2 linked regions of the Homo sapiens genome follow. The protein of the gene in region 2 interacts with the protein of the main gene of each other region in a biochemical or structural test. Each region holds a gene or a part of one and is shown on either strand. Other genes may lie near its edges. The genes, in order: GCM1 and CAMK1.

What was found.
Region 1: of the proteins of CAMK1 (region 2) and GCM1, one has a biochemical effect on the other in vitro, tested with the Homo sapiens proteins (one study listed by BioGRID).

Annotation. Positions count from the first base shown.
Region 1 is NC_000006.12:53,126,291-53,131,948, forward strand, and holds the end of GCM1 (chorion-specific transcription factor GCMa), read right to left. Parts: intron 4,642-5,658; coding exon 4,513-4,641; intron 2,657-4,512; coding exon 1,916-2,656; 3' UTR 671-1,915; downstream 1-670. UniProt on the Homo sapiens protein: Transcription factor involved in the control of expression of placental growth factor (PGF) and other placenta-specific genes. Binds to the trophoblast-specific element 2 (TSE2) of the aromatase gene enhancer. Binds to the SYDE1 promoter.
Region 2 is NC_000003.12:9,766,724-9,774,688, forward strand, and holds the start of CAMK1 (calcium/calmodulin-dependent protein kinase type 1), read right to left. Parts: upstream 3,225-7,965; 5' UTR 3,109-3,224; intron 1,059-3,108; 5' UTR 1,027-1,058; coding exon 944-1,026; intron 1-943. UniProt on the Homo sapiens protein: Calcium/calmodulin-dependent protein kinase that operates in the calcium-triggered CaMKK-CaMK1 signaling cascade and, upon calcium influx, regulates transcription activators activity, cell cycle, hormone production, cell differentiation, actin filament organization and neurite outgrowth.

The sequences.
Region 1 (5,658 bases), on a different chromosome or scaffold from region 2:
ACAGGTCCAAGTAGCTGAGACTACAGGTATGCATGATGACATCCAGCTAATTTTTAATTTTTGGTAGAGACGGGGTCCCGCTATGTTGCCCAGGCTGGTCTTGAACTCCTGGGCTCAAGTGATCCACCCGCCTTTGCCTCCAAAAGTGCTGGGGTTACACGTGTGAGCCACCATGCCTGGCCAATATATAAGTTTTATATATAGTCTTGTCACTTAGACAAATGAATTTAGAAGATTTGAACAAATCTAAATGTTTATCAATAGGGACTATTTAATTATAATAGTCATGTAATGCATAATGCATCATTAAAAATGAAGCAGCTGTGATCCTATATGCTTATAAGAACTTAATGCTCAAATTGGCTCCTAAAACGACAAAAACTATGTTAGAAATGAATCTGATATGATACCACTTATGTCATCTCTCTCTTATATATATATATAAATATATTTTATATATAAAAGATATGTGTGTATTTTATGTAATGTATTTCATACACATTACATATAATTATATATATGCAGAGAACATTTCTAATATCTGGAATAATAGACAAGAAACTAGTCAGTGTTGCAGAGGGGAGACTAGAACTAGGAGACTTCTTTTTTTTCACTTTTGAATTTTGTATCATGTGCATCTGTTACTATTCTAATAAAGGAGAAGGAATAATTTATTTCAAAAATACTTGTTTATTGCATGGTTCTCTCCAGATTTTATGTCTAGGCTTACTTTTATCATAAAGTACTTCAGCAAAGAAGAGAAACTGGCATTCAAACATGGCCGGCCAATCATTGCCAGGCTAATTGCACAAGAGCTTCTCCAAGCAAATATTTCTCACCTATTACAAACCCCACATTGATATAGGTGCCACAAATAATAAATGGGATAAAACAGAAGCCCCTGTGCAAGGGGAAGTCAGTGAGGAAGAGGGAAGGAAACAAGAGGCAAGGAGACCACGCACATCACTAGTGTTTCTCTTCATATGGCAATTTAACATTGCTGTTCTTTGTCTTTATGAAAAATGGGGTTAGGTCAGGTTCCTTGTCATCACAAGTCTCAGAAATCATCTAGAAAACATATATTTTACACACTAGTCTCACAACTAGACAACATATTCAGTACTTCAGTGGTAGAATCTTCAGCTTTTCACACCTTAGGCAGTTCTTCCACCATCTATTTCTGTTTCTTCATTCTCAGTTCCCAAGAAGGCATAGATCAGGTCCTAGATAGGTTAGCATTTCACATGTCTACTCCATTTCATTTGCAACAATGACAATGAAAACCCAGCATGCAATGTGGCTGAGGTGCTGGGAACCCCAAACAATGTGGGGGAAAAAGCAGAGGGCACTTCACACCCCAGACGGGACAGGTTTCCATTCCTTACTGAGGGTGGAAATACTAGAGTGGAGGAGAAGAAGCCAAAAAAATTACTCATGTGAAGAAAAAAGCCTTGTCAGCCGGGCACAATGGCTCACGCCTGTAATCCCAGCACTTTGGGATGGTGAGGTGGGCAGATCACTTGAGATCAGGAGTTTGAGAGCAGCCTGACCAACATGGCAAAACCCTGTCTCTACTAAAAATAGAAAAATTAGCCAGGCGCAGTGGCAGGTGCCTGTAATCCCAGCTACTCGGGAGGCTGACGCAGGAGAATCACTCAAACCCGGGAGGCAGAGGTTGCAGTGAGCCGAGATGGCGCCACTGCATTCCTGCCTGGGCAAAAGAGCAAGACTCTGTCTCAAAAAAAAAAAAAAAAAAAAAAAAAGAAGGAAAAAAGAAAAAGAAAAAAGCCTTGTCTACTGCTTATCATGATTCTCATTTATCTGTGGTTATGTTTTAAAAATTATTTCCTAAGGAAATTCTTTCAGCCCTTCCCCATTTTTGAGGGGCTGGGGTGCACATAGTGAAAGATTTGGGTCATCTCAAAGGACACAGGTTCAGAAGCATATCATTGTTGCAGTGATCCAAACCCAAGTATGTCATTTCTTCCTCAAAATCCCATTTGCTGCTCTTGCTTGGCAGTGAATATTGCTGATGAGGATGAGAGGCGTAGGTGAAGAGAAAGGGGTCTTCTTGAGGTGAATGGTATGCAGGAGACTGGACGTAGCTGTTAAAATCCACATGTACTTTCTCTTCATAAAGATTACCCGCTGGATTTGGCCATAATGGGGGACAGCCAGTTTTGGCTGCAGGTGGCTCCAATGGAAGCTGCTGGTAAAAGGGTTCTGAAGAGTTTTGGGAAGGAGAGAAGCTGCAAGGCCAGCTGGTCAGAGGAAAAGGATAATTGGAATAACAGTTGTCAGCAAGATGATTTCTCCCCAAAGCAGCATTTTTACTCCACGCTTGTAGATCGCCATGATCAGAGTAGACTCCGGAGGCAGAAGGAGGAAGCAGGTCTCCACTACTGTAGGTTCTGCTACTGGACAATTTGCGCTTTTCATAGAGCTTCATGGGGTCCACAGTGGAAGTCTGGTCAGTCAGATCTGTGATTCCTCCCAGACCATAACTCTTGGAGAAGGAAAAGCAATCATTTAGTGAGTTCTGCTGAGGAGTGTTAGCTATTAAATGTCCACTGTAACTACCAGGCAATTGGACGCCTTCCTGGAAAGACCAAGTTAAAGGTAAACTCCCCTGACTTTGTGTTTCACCTGGAAGAGACTGGAAAGGAAAGTGAAATGCTCGTGTTAATAAGTTAAGCAAATCAAAACCACTGCCATAGGCACCCATGAGTTACTCTGTACAAATAAGAGCTCCATCAGATTTTCCTCATTCCTTACACATTAATACTTGACGCACAAACACATGCAGCGGCTTGACCACAACCACGAAACACTTGAAAAAAGCAAAGGCTGCCTCTGTTTCCATGTTAAAGCTTGCTAACCAGTAAGAGCCAAATTTCCCTACATTCAGTAGAGACATGAGTGTGTTTAAGATGTTTCACACTCAAACACAAATCTGATATCCTAATTGCTTTTTATTTATTCTTTTTTTTTTTTTTTTGAGATGGAGTCTCGCTCTGTTGCCCAGCCAGGCTGGAGCGCAGTGGCACGATCTTGGCTCACTGCAACCTCTGCCTCCCGGGTTCAAGCAATTCTCATGTCTCAGCCTCTCAATAGCTGGGATTACAGGCGCCTGCCACCACGCCCAGCTAATTTTTGTATTTTCAGTAGAGATGGGGTTTTGCCATGTTGGCCAGGCTGGTCTCGAACTCCTGACCTCAAGTGACCCACCTGCCTTGGCCTCCCAAAGTGCTGGGATTAGAGGCATAAGCCACAGTGCCTGGCCTCTAATTGCCTTTTTGAGAAACTTATAAGGAACTATTTACAAAATATCAAAGTATAACTTCAAAGATTTATATTATACTCAGCACAACTCCCAGGGTCTCTGTCTCTCAACATTTCCTCCCTTGACTATTCTATTTCTTAGTGCTGGTTGGAGTGTGAGAGACCATGGTTGCTATTGTTTTTTAGTTTTTCCTTTCCTCAAGAGATTTTTCTTTGAATTCGTGGGAATTTTGTTGAACCATAAATCAGACCTCTAGAACACGAGTGGTACATTCATTTATTTTTCTAAATGGAGGAGGTATATTGTTCTTTAGTTAATCGTTAAAAAAAGGATCTGGTTGAGAATTAAGTTATGCTCTTGTTTAGGTAAAACTACTAGCTGTTAAGGGGATACTTTTAGGGGGTAGAGAAAAAGGGCTGTGACCAGGTAGATTGGATGAGAGACTGAAATGCCACTTGACTTGTCCCATGGCTGGGAGAAAGGATGAGGAAATAGCCATTTGGGTTTGGGGGGCTTGCATTTCCCTACAACAGATCCACATTACAATTTTTTTAAATAAAGTACATTTACAGCCTCTAGGGATGGACCAGTTCCATCTCTGTTCTCCCAAAAAGAAATGTGCACCTTTGAACAGTAGAAAAAGTATAGGAACTACTATCAATATTAAACAGACAAATGCAAAAAAACCTATGATCTGCTGCCCATAAAGCAGTGGACTTCACATCACAGTTTGTCTATAGGGAGTAGCCTCCACTCCACTATTGCCACCCTGGGACAGCTATCATTTTCGGAAACTGCTTGCTTATTTCATCTTGGTAGAGTGTGCTAAGAAAACAATCTGTTTGGGGACGTATGGAAATTCAGGAGGGCGGGGAGGGGGCAGGCGGTGAAATGCATAAGGCTACTATTTTGTGGAGATTGTTTCAATTGTTTTTGGTTCTTGCCAAATATAAGTTAAGTGCTAATTCAAGTTTCTCTTTGTAATTGTAGTAGGGAAGATGATTCTCCAATTACATGGACTTTATGGTTCCCAGCATGCTACAAAGATGGTAGAAAGTAAGAGTAAAGCCTCAGATTTAATTTCTTTAGCAGATGCTTGTTTGTAGATGAGCCTGATAATCCATGATTTCTGGCTTTCCTGCGTCAGCAAGGGACCCAGGAAATCTACCGCCCCCAGCACAGGCGTGGCAAGCTACTGCATGTATTGAACATACATAATGAAGGATTACCCTGGTCTCTGTGCTCCCCTTCAGGCTCAATGAGACGGAGGAAGGTGCTGTGTTCACTTTCTTCATGGCTCTTCTTGCCTCAGCTTCTAACTTGGTTTCTGGTTTTGGATGATCATGCTCTCCCTTTGACTTAAATGAGACAAGGAAGTAGAAAGGAAATGATATAACACTAACTAGACTGTGTTTCATGGTGTATCAGTTTTTATTTACTGTGTGTCCTGCCCCGGGGGTGGTGTTGCAGTTGCCTATGGTAACCAGACTGGATGAACCTCTGAAGGCGCTCCCAAGCCCACCATGCTCCTGCCTGCCTGCCTCTCACCCACCCAGCAAAGCCATAATCACAGTGCTAAGTAACACTTACTAAATGCTTCCTGTGGTATGTGCCAGACACAAATAAACACCCTGTGTGCCTTATATCTCATTTCATCTTCAGCACAACCATTGAGGTACACACCATTATTATCACCCCCAGTTTACAGAACAGGAAACTGAGGCATGGAGTGATTACGCCAGCTGGGTAACCTCCTCTAGAAGTGAGGGACCTAGGATTCCCCTACCTGGAGCTGGCCAAAGCTGAGAGTCAATAGTTAAACATTCAGGAATTTTGTAGGCTGATTGTTAAAAATGACTGCTGGCTTGAAATCAGCCACGGTGAGAATATTTCCATTACAGAAGTTGGCAAATGCTACAAATCAGGACATTTTCTTTTTGGAGAGCTGGTTTACCAGCATCCCACTAATTCAAACCCAGGCAGTCTGAGTCAGGGTCCATTCTTCACCACTGTTGGTGCCACTGCCCCATTAGTACTCTTACACATTCTACAGAAAACTGGGACGTGGAAGAGGAAAATCACCTGCTCAGGTTTAAAGACCGAGTAAAAAGTCAGAGCTGGTGTTCAAACTCAGATTTGCTGAAGGCTACCAGCAGCATGCAGCATGCGGCATGCTTAGAAGCACTGTGCTAACCTCAGTGTGACTAGATTAGCTGCCACTTCTCCTGAGAAGTAGAAGCAGAGACAGGCAGCTCCCCTTCTAGAGCTCCCCAGCACTTCAAACATCTATTAGAAGTGCAGGGGACAGATACTTGCTCTCTTAGAGTGTGAGCCCTCGGGGATGGTGCAGGATCTCATTCACAGGTGCATTTCTA
Region 2 (7,965 bases):
CATAAGTCAAAGAAAAGCATCTCTCGTGGTGAAATTTCAATCCTCAGGGATAATTAGTTACTGTAGTAACCTCATCACTGGTTTCCAGTCTTGTCCCTCTCCAATTTACCCTCCAAGCTGTGGCCAGAGTGACTATCCTGAATTGCACACCTGCCAAAAAGTCTTAAGTGTCTCCCGGTGGCCTATGGGACAATATCCAGCCTCCCTGGCCTGGCTTCCAAAACCCTACACAAACTGTCCCACTTTCATCTCCAGCCCCTTTTTCCACTCTCCCCCCAGCCTGTGATTTTAAGCTCCATCACACTCTACCTCTCTCCACATAGAACCATGCCTCTAAGCCTTTGTTTATGCTATTCCTTCTGCCTGGAATGTCCTTCTTCCTCTCTGACAAGTGCACACCTACCCATCCTTCAGTCCCCAGCTCTAATGCCCCATTCTCCAGGAAGTTTTCCCCCAGGCAGAAGGCACAGCTCTCTCTGGGCTCCACAAAGCCCTCAATCCCAACCTTAATTGGAGCACAGCACACACCCTGTTGTCATTTTCTGTAGGTCTGTCTCTTGCACATGTCTGGGATCAACTTGAAGGGCAGAGACCAGGTTTGAGTTATTTCTGCATTCCCAGCACCAAGAACAGAGCCATCTCCAGCCTCAGTTCCCAAACCTAGGCTAGAACACTTAGCTCTTGGCAGCAAGTTAAATGGACTGACTGGCACCTTCATTCTCTCGACTTCTTTCTCTTCAAGAACCCAGGGCTATTGGGAGAGCAGCCCGTGTCCCACCCACTGTCATCCAGAAGTGAAAAGCTGGGGACAGTTTAGGCCCTAGATAGTGCTGCCACAGGGCCTGGGCTGTGGGAAACAGGAAGCATTAATTGACCAGAGGAAGCCCCACCCTGGACTCAGCCTCCCTCAGCCATCCAGCACCCAATCCTGCCCTGGACTCACGTGCCCAGAACATCTCGGAAGTCGTAGATGTCTCTAATGTCCTCCGCCTGCTTCCACCTGGGGCCTTCCACTGCCCCCAGCATGGCCCACTGCCCCCCGACCACAGCCAGGGCTCCTGTAAGGAGAATGGAAGGAGGAGACTCAGCAGAGCCCAGCCCTCTGTCTGGGAATTTACTGCAGGCCCCATTCAGTCATTCAACCTGCATTTATTCATCCTTGATTCATCCATTTGACAAAATCATTCAACAAACATTCATTTGTTTATTCAACATTCAGCAAATTCTCATGCCTAGAGAAAAACCTTTCACAGTGGCAGCAAAATTCTTTATTTAACAAAGTCATGCATTCATTCATTCATTTATTCTAGTTCTCTTCCCAGTTTTCCCCCTATCCAAATCCAAGCACCTAGGGAAACCCTGACTTCTGGCAGTACAACAGATAAACCCCCAGAGCAGCTGGTAGAAGCCTGGAGGATCCCCCTGTCCCCAGAACCAGTGATGTCCCCGCCCCACCCTGGGGATTGCTGGGGTGTCTCCTTTCCCTCCTCCTTCCCCCGACTCCCCGGCCTCTCCGAAATCAGGTTTCCAGCAGCCTGGGCTTCCAGCAACATCTCAGCCACATTTTTAAATAGCTCTTTCTGCACTGTTACCACAGCAACAACAGCCACAGCTGGAGCTCCCCAGACCTCTCCCTCCTGACTCCCCATCTGGGTCCCGGGAGCATGAGAAATGGTCCTGCTCACTCTGTCCCTTCCTGGCCCCATCTAACCCTATCCAGCCTGGCCCTTCCTCTGCTGAGGTCTGTCTCATCCAGCAGGAGAGGGTGGGAGTTCTCTCCCATTTATCAGATGAAGAATGGGGAGACTGAGGTTGGAGTTAGGTAGAGGCTGGCTCCAGAGGCCCTAATGACACCTGGCCTGGGGCCCCCAGCTAAGCTTGCTGAGGGCAAAGGCCATCGAATGGCCTTGGCTGGTACTTCCAATATGAAGCCAGAATGGGCCCCATTCAGAGAACACAGCCTCCCAACCCATCCACAGATGAGGCCAAAACAGAGCCCAGCATGCTTTGTGACCTCAGGGAGAGCACTTTCCTTCTCTCTTTTTCTCTAAGGGAGAATGAGGAGAAGGTGCCCTGACTAGGGCCTCTGGTGTGAGATTCCACTCCTGGAACAGGACCTTTTTCCCAGGGGACCCTGCCCACCCATCCAGGGGCAGAATCTTCTAGGAAAGGAGACTCGAGTGTAAGCTCTAGAGGCAGAGTCTGAAACCCACATGGAGGCCTACCAAATACAACCCTCACAGATCCACACACATCCCTGTAGCAGACATGCCACACCAAGCCCCCTCCACAGCCCTGAACTCAAACACCTGCCTCCCAGATCCAGTACGCCTTGTATCCACATCCCGTGACACCTGATCATACATGTACTCCCAGACATCAGCACACATGTCCACACCACACAGTGCCCCAGACAGCCCTGCACCCGAACACCTGCCTGTCCATCCAAACATCCCTCACCCAGCTCCCTCTTACACCCCAAAACACACATCCACCCGCACCCACACAAGATGACACCCAGACACACACACACACACCCTCATATACCAGACGTACCCTACACCCTCCAGCTCCTCTACCCCATCCCCTGGAAGCTCCTGTATTCCAAACCAAACCCCAAGTCCTTACACACCTAACTCCAAACATCCTCAGTACACAATTGTACACCCCCTCCTAACTCTGACTTAAGACCCTGAGAGCCAAATACCAGCACACAAAACACGTGGACACCCCTCTGGAACAAAAAACACACAGATTCCCAGATCCTCCACCCATGTCTGACCCACACGCCTGTCCTAAGACAGTACACTCCGCAAGCCCCCCCACCCCATGGATACCTCCAAATGCCCACGCCCTTCCAGTCAGGCCCAGCTGAAGGCGCTCACACAGGCCCCCTTCTCTATTACCCACTCAGTGTCCCATAGGCCCGCCTGGCACCTGCTGGGCCTGGGACAGAGGTGGAGAAAGGCCCAGCCCTGCCCCTCAGGGTCCAGCCCGCCCGGGAGAGTGCCCAGTGGCCACTCCTTGGGAAAGGATACCCAGAGGCTAGGGGCTCCCACCGCCCCCACGCAGCGCCCAGGGGTGCAGGGATGGGGGGCCCGGCTGTACCTGCGGCTGCCCCGCCGCGGGGCTGGCTGGGAGGCCCGCGGTGGTTGGCGCCGAGCTGTGGCCGCGGTCCTCACCGCTGCGTGCCTGGGCCACCCGCCCGCGCTCTTGCTGGAGCTGGGGCTCGGCTCGGCTCGGCGGCTCTCTCCGCCCGCCTGCGGCTCTGATGTCAGTGGAGGTGGAGCCTGCGGCGGAGGGACCCGGGATTGGGAGGCGAGGCACCGCTCCAAGGCTGGGGAAGGGGCACGGGTGGAGGCCATCTCCCTGCTTCTGGTCAGAGATCTCCTGCTGGACGCTTCCCGCCCTTGGTCTTAAGCGGGGTCCATTTCACAGAGGGGACAACTGAGGCCCGGAGAGATGATTTTCAAATCAGCGGGTGGTCGGAAGCAAAGCAGGATTCGAACCCCGTCTGTCTGAAGCTAGAGGCCGGCCAAACTCACCCTGTGGCCTGGTGGATTTTCTTTCAGACCAGTTCTGCGACCTCCCTTAGGGCTCTGTCTCCCTTCTCCGTGCCCTGAAGGGAAACAGGCCCTGGAACTGCACGGGAGTCTGGTGGGGGATGGGGGAGTGAGGGAGTGGGGAAGGACCGGGCAAGACTAGGCAATGAAGAGAGTGGAGGTGGTCGCAGGGTGTGGGCCCCACTTGACAGGTGGGAAGACTGAGGCCCCGGTTCCTCTGCAAGATGGAGCTGAGGCTTCAGCCCCAGACACTTGCTCCTCAGAGCGGGTGGTGGTGCCTAGAGGTATTGGGGGCAGAGGGAATTGGGGAGGAGGAAGTTAAATCGGGATCCTGAAGGAAACAGGCCAAAAAGGACCGAGGTGTCACGTGACTGGCGGGGCTCCAGAGTTTGATGGCTGGGGTCCAGGTTAGGGGAGAGAGCCTGCAACTAGGACGGCAGGCAAGAGGCCAAAGGTCGGTTTGCTCAAGGCCTTCCTTGGGAAGAAATTTGGTGCCGAGTGGAAAGAGGGGGCGGGGGGAGCAACTCGCAGGAATTGGGGATGGGGCTGAACTGGGGGCAGCCGGAGGAGGCACGTTGCTTGGGACCCCACTCCACCTCCAAGGGCCTCCAAGTGCCACTCCCTACTCCTGAATTCTTGCATGTTCCAGCTGGTGATGGGGAGAGAACAGTGCTTATGCCCAGCTCATTTCCTTTTTCTCTTTCTTTCTTTCTTTTTTCTTTCTTTCTCTTCTTCTTTTTTTCTTTTTCTTTTTTTTTTAAGACAGGGTCTTGCTCTGTCACCCAGGCTGGAGTGCAATGGCATGATCACGGCCCACTGCAGCCTCAAACTCCTGGGCTCAAGTCATCTTCCTACCTCAGCCTCCCATGTAGATGGGACTACAGGTGCGTGCCACCACACCTGGCTTTTTTATTTTTTGTAGAGATGGGGATCTCACTATATTGCCCAGGCTGGTCTCAAACTCCTGGGCTCAAGCAATCCTCCCCAATCAGCTTCCCAAGGTTCTGGAATTACAGGCATGAGCCACTGCACCTGGCCAATTTATTATGCCCATCTTACAGATGAGAGAGGAAGATAGCTGAGGTTCCTGGAAAGGCTTTGGAGTCTAACTGATCCTGGTCATGCTTTACCTCTCCGAACCTCAGTTTCTTACTCGGGAACATGGGAATATTGAAGATTGACTCAGAGTTCTGAGAATTCTATGATATAATGATATGAAGTGCCTAGAACACTATTCAAAACATGAGAGCTAGACTCAGTGTAAACTGAGACTCAGAGAGAGGACTTGATTTGGCCAGGGATGAGGGGTTAAGGGATCCATCTTCCAAATCTCAGTATCTCAGACTCCTTAGTTCATGGAAAAATACATTTCCTGCTCAGGGCTGAGCCCCCACTCTCCCCTATACCCACCAAGCACACCCACTGAGCTAGGGGTTCTTTTACCACAAATTCCTGTTCATCTTGATGACAACACCCCCTGGGTGATAAGATGACCTCTGTCCTTTCGAGGACTTGTACAACTTCTTTTTTTTTTTTTTTTTTTTTTTTTTGAGACAGTCTCCCTCTGTTGCCCAGGCTGGAGTGCAATGGTGCCATCTCGCCTCACTGCAACCTCCGCCTCCTGGGTTCAAGCAATTCTCCTGCCTCAGCCTCCCAAGTATCTGGGACTACAGGCGTGAACCAACACGCCCAACTAATTTTTGTATTTTTAGTAGAGATGGGGGTTTCACCATGTTGGTCAGGCTGGTCTCGAACTCCTGACCTCAGGTGATCCACCTGCCTCAGCCTCCCAAAGTGCTGGAATTACAGGCATGAGCTACCGCGCCCAGCTGACTTGTACAGCTTCTATGGTGTGCTTTACATTTTTCCTGCTTTTGAGCATTTCTGAGAGGCCTCGTGTTTTCTTTTCTTTAACAAACACATTATCTTTACTTTCTTAGTATTTCTATTGAACAAGTGATACATGGTCATTGCAGGAAAATTCCATAATGTATTGAAAACACACACAGACTAACTGATGAGATTCTTTCGCTTCCCAAGTGACAGAATGCCAACCTAAACCAGCTTCATCCAAGAGGAATCTATAGTTCACAATAGCTGGCACAAGATTGCAGGAAAAACACCAGAGATTAGGGGCTTGGAGACTGGAACTGGAGATGTAGTACTCATAGGATTTGCTTTCTCTGTCTTCCCTCCTCTCTCCTTGTCTTGATTTTTCTTCACACGTTGGCCTCTTTTTCTCTCCAGAGTGAACTTCTAGTTGGCAGGAAACATGGAGTGAGGCAGCCCCAGCTTTCCAATTAAACACAGTGGAAGGAAAGCATCCTCCCAATTTCCTATCTCATTCTCAGGGAAGGACTCTGGCTCTGCTTGAGTGATAGAGTGACATGTTCACCCCTTGGCCTCCAAAACTGTTGCCAGGAGAATTAGGGTGCTATATTGAGCAAGTGTACTGTAATGGGCAGCCATAAGGAATGGAAGAGGTATCTTGTCCAAAGGAATTAGGGGTGCGAGGGAGGCAAGAATAACACAACACTCTCAGCCGGGCCCCCACCAACCAGAGACAACCAGTGTTCACATTTTTAGTACAATTCTTCCAGATTTTTTGGATGCGTATACATATACATCCTTCTGCAGCCCCCAGTCCCGATGAGCACATTTCAAAGTACTAATCAAAAAGTGAGTGAAGGGCCAGGCGTGGGGAGGCCAAGGTGGGCAGATCATCTGAGGTCAGGAGTTTAAGACCAGCCTGGCCAACGTGGTGAAACCCTGTCTCTACTAAAAATACAAAAATTAGCTGGGTGTGGTGGCATGCACCTGTATCCCCAGCCACTTGGGACGCTGAGGCAGGAGAATTGCTTGAACCCAGGAGATGGAAGTTGCAGTGAGCTGAGATTGCACCATTGTACTCCAGCCTGGGTGACACGGCAAGACTACATCTCAAAAAAAAAAAAAAAAAGTGGCTGGGTGCGGTGGCTAACGCCTATAATTCCAGCACCTTGGGAGGCTGAGGCGGGTGGATCATGAGGTCAGGAGATCGAGACCATCCTGGCTAACATGGTGAAACCCTGTTATCTTTTGTATTTCTACTAAAGATACAAAAAATTAGCCAGGCGTGGTGGCGGGCGCCTGTAGTCCCAGCTAATCAGGAGGCTGAGGCAGGAGAATGGCGTGGACCCGGGAGGCAGAGCTTGCAGTGAGCAGAGACCACGCGCCACTGCACTCCAGCCTGGGCGACAGAGCGAGACTCCGTCTCAAAAATAAATAAATGAATAATAATTTAAAAAAAGGTGAGTCAAGGAAAGTCAAATGTTCTCAGGGAAAAGGGGGATGATCTTTTCTTCTTTTTTTTTTTTTTGAATGGCTAAACAGTGCAGACATCTCCATCAATTCTTTTATTTATTTATTTATTTATTATTTTTTTGAGACAGGGCCTCACTCTGTCACCCAGGCTGTGGTGCAGCGGCGCCATCATGGCTCACTGCAGCCTTGACTTCCCAGGCTGGAGTGATCATCCCACCTCAGCCTCCGGAGTAGCTGGGGCTGCAGGTGTGTACCACCATACCTGGCTAATTTTTTTTAGTTTTTTATTTTTTGTAGATATCGGGTCTCTACTCCCTCTGTTGCCCAGACTTCTCTGGAACTCTGGAATCAAGTGATCCTCCTGCTTGGGTCTCCCAGAGTGCCGGGATTATAGGCGTGAGCCAGTATGGCTGGCCTCCATGAATTCTTGAACCTGACAGAAAAGAAGCTATTGAAAGAGTGAGTAGTTAACTAAGATTAGAGAAAATGGAAGAAATAACAAGGAAAAGATGGACAGGTTTATTTTTTAAAATTCTTTGGCTGGGCGTGGTGACTCACTCCTGAATCCCAGCACTTTGGGAGGCCAAGGCAGAAGGATCACCTGAGGTCAGGAGTTCAAGACCAGCCTGGGCAACATAGTGAAACCCCATCTCTACTAAAAATACAAAAATTAGCCAGGTGTGGTGGCGCATGCCTGTAGTCCCAGCTACTCGGGAGGCTGATGCAGGAGAATCACTTGAACCTGGTAGGCGGAGACTGCATTGAGCTGAGATTGCACCATTGCACTCCAGCCAGAATGACAGAGCCAGACTCTGTCTCAAAAAAAAAAAAAAAAAAAACAAAACTTTAACTTTTGTTACTTTTTTTTAACTTTTTTTCAAAAAGTGAAAACCCTACTCTACTCCGAAATGGTAGCCAAAAATGAAAGGCAAACTTCAGACTGGGGAAATGTTTTGTAGACAATGGCTTAATATATTTATTATATAAACAGCACACAGGATTGATAACAAACAGTAAGAACCTAATAAATGGTCAAAGGATACAGATAAAACACAGTAAACACAGGACATTTTGTATCTCACTAGTGATACAAAAAAGT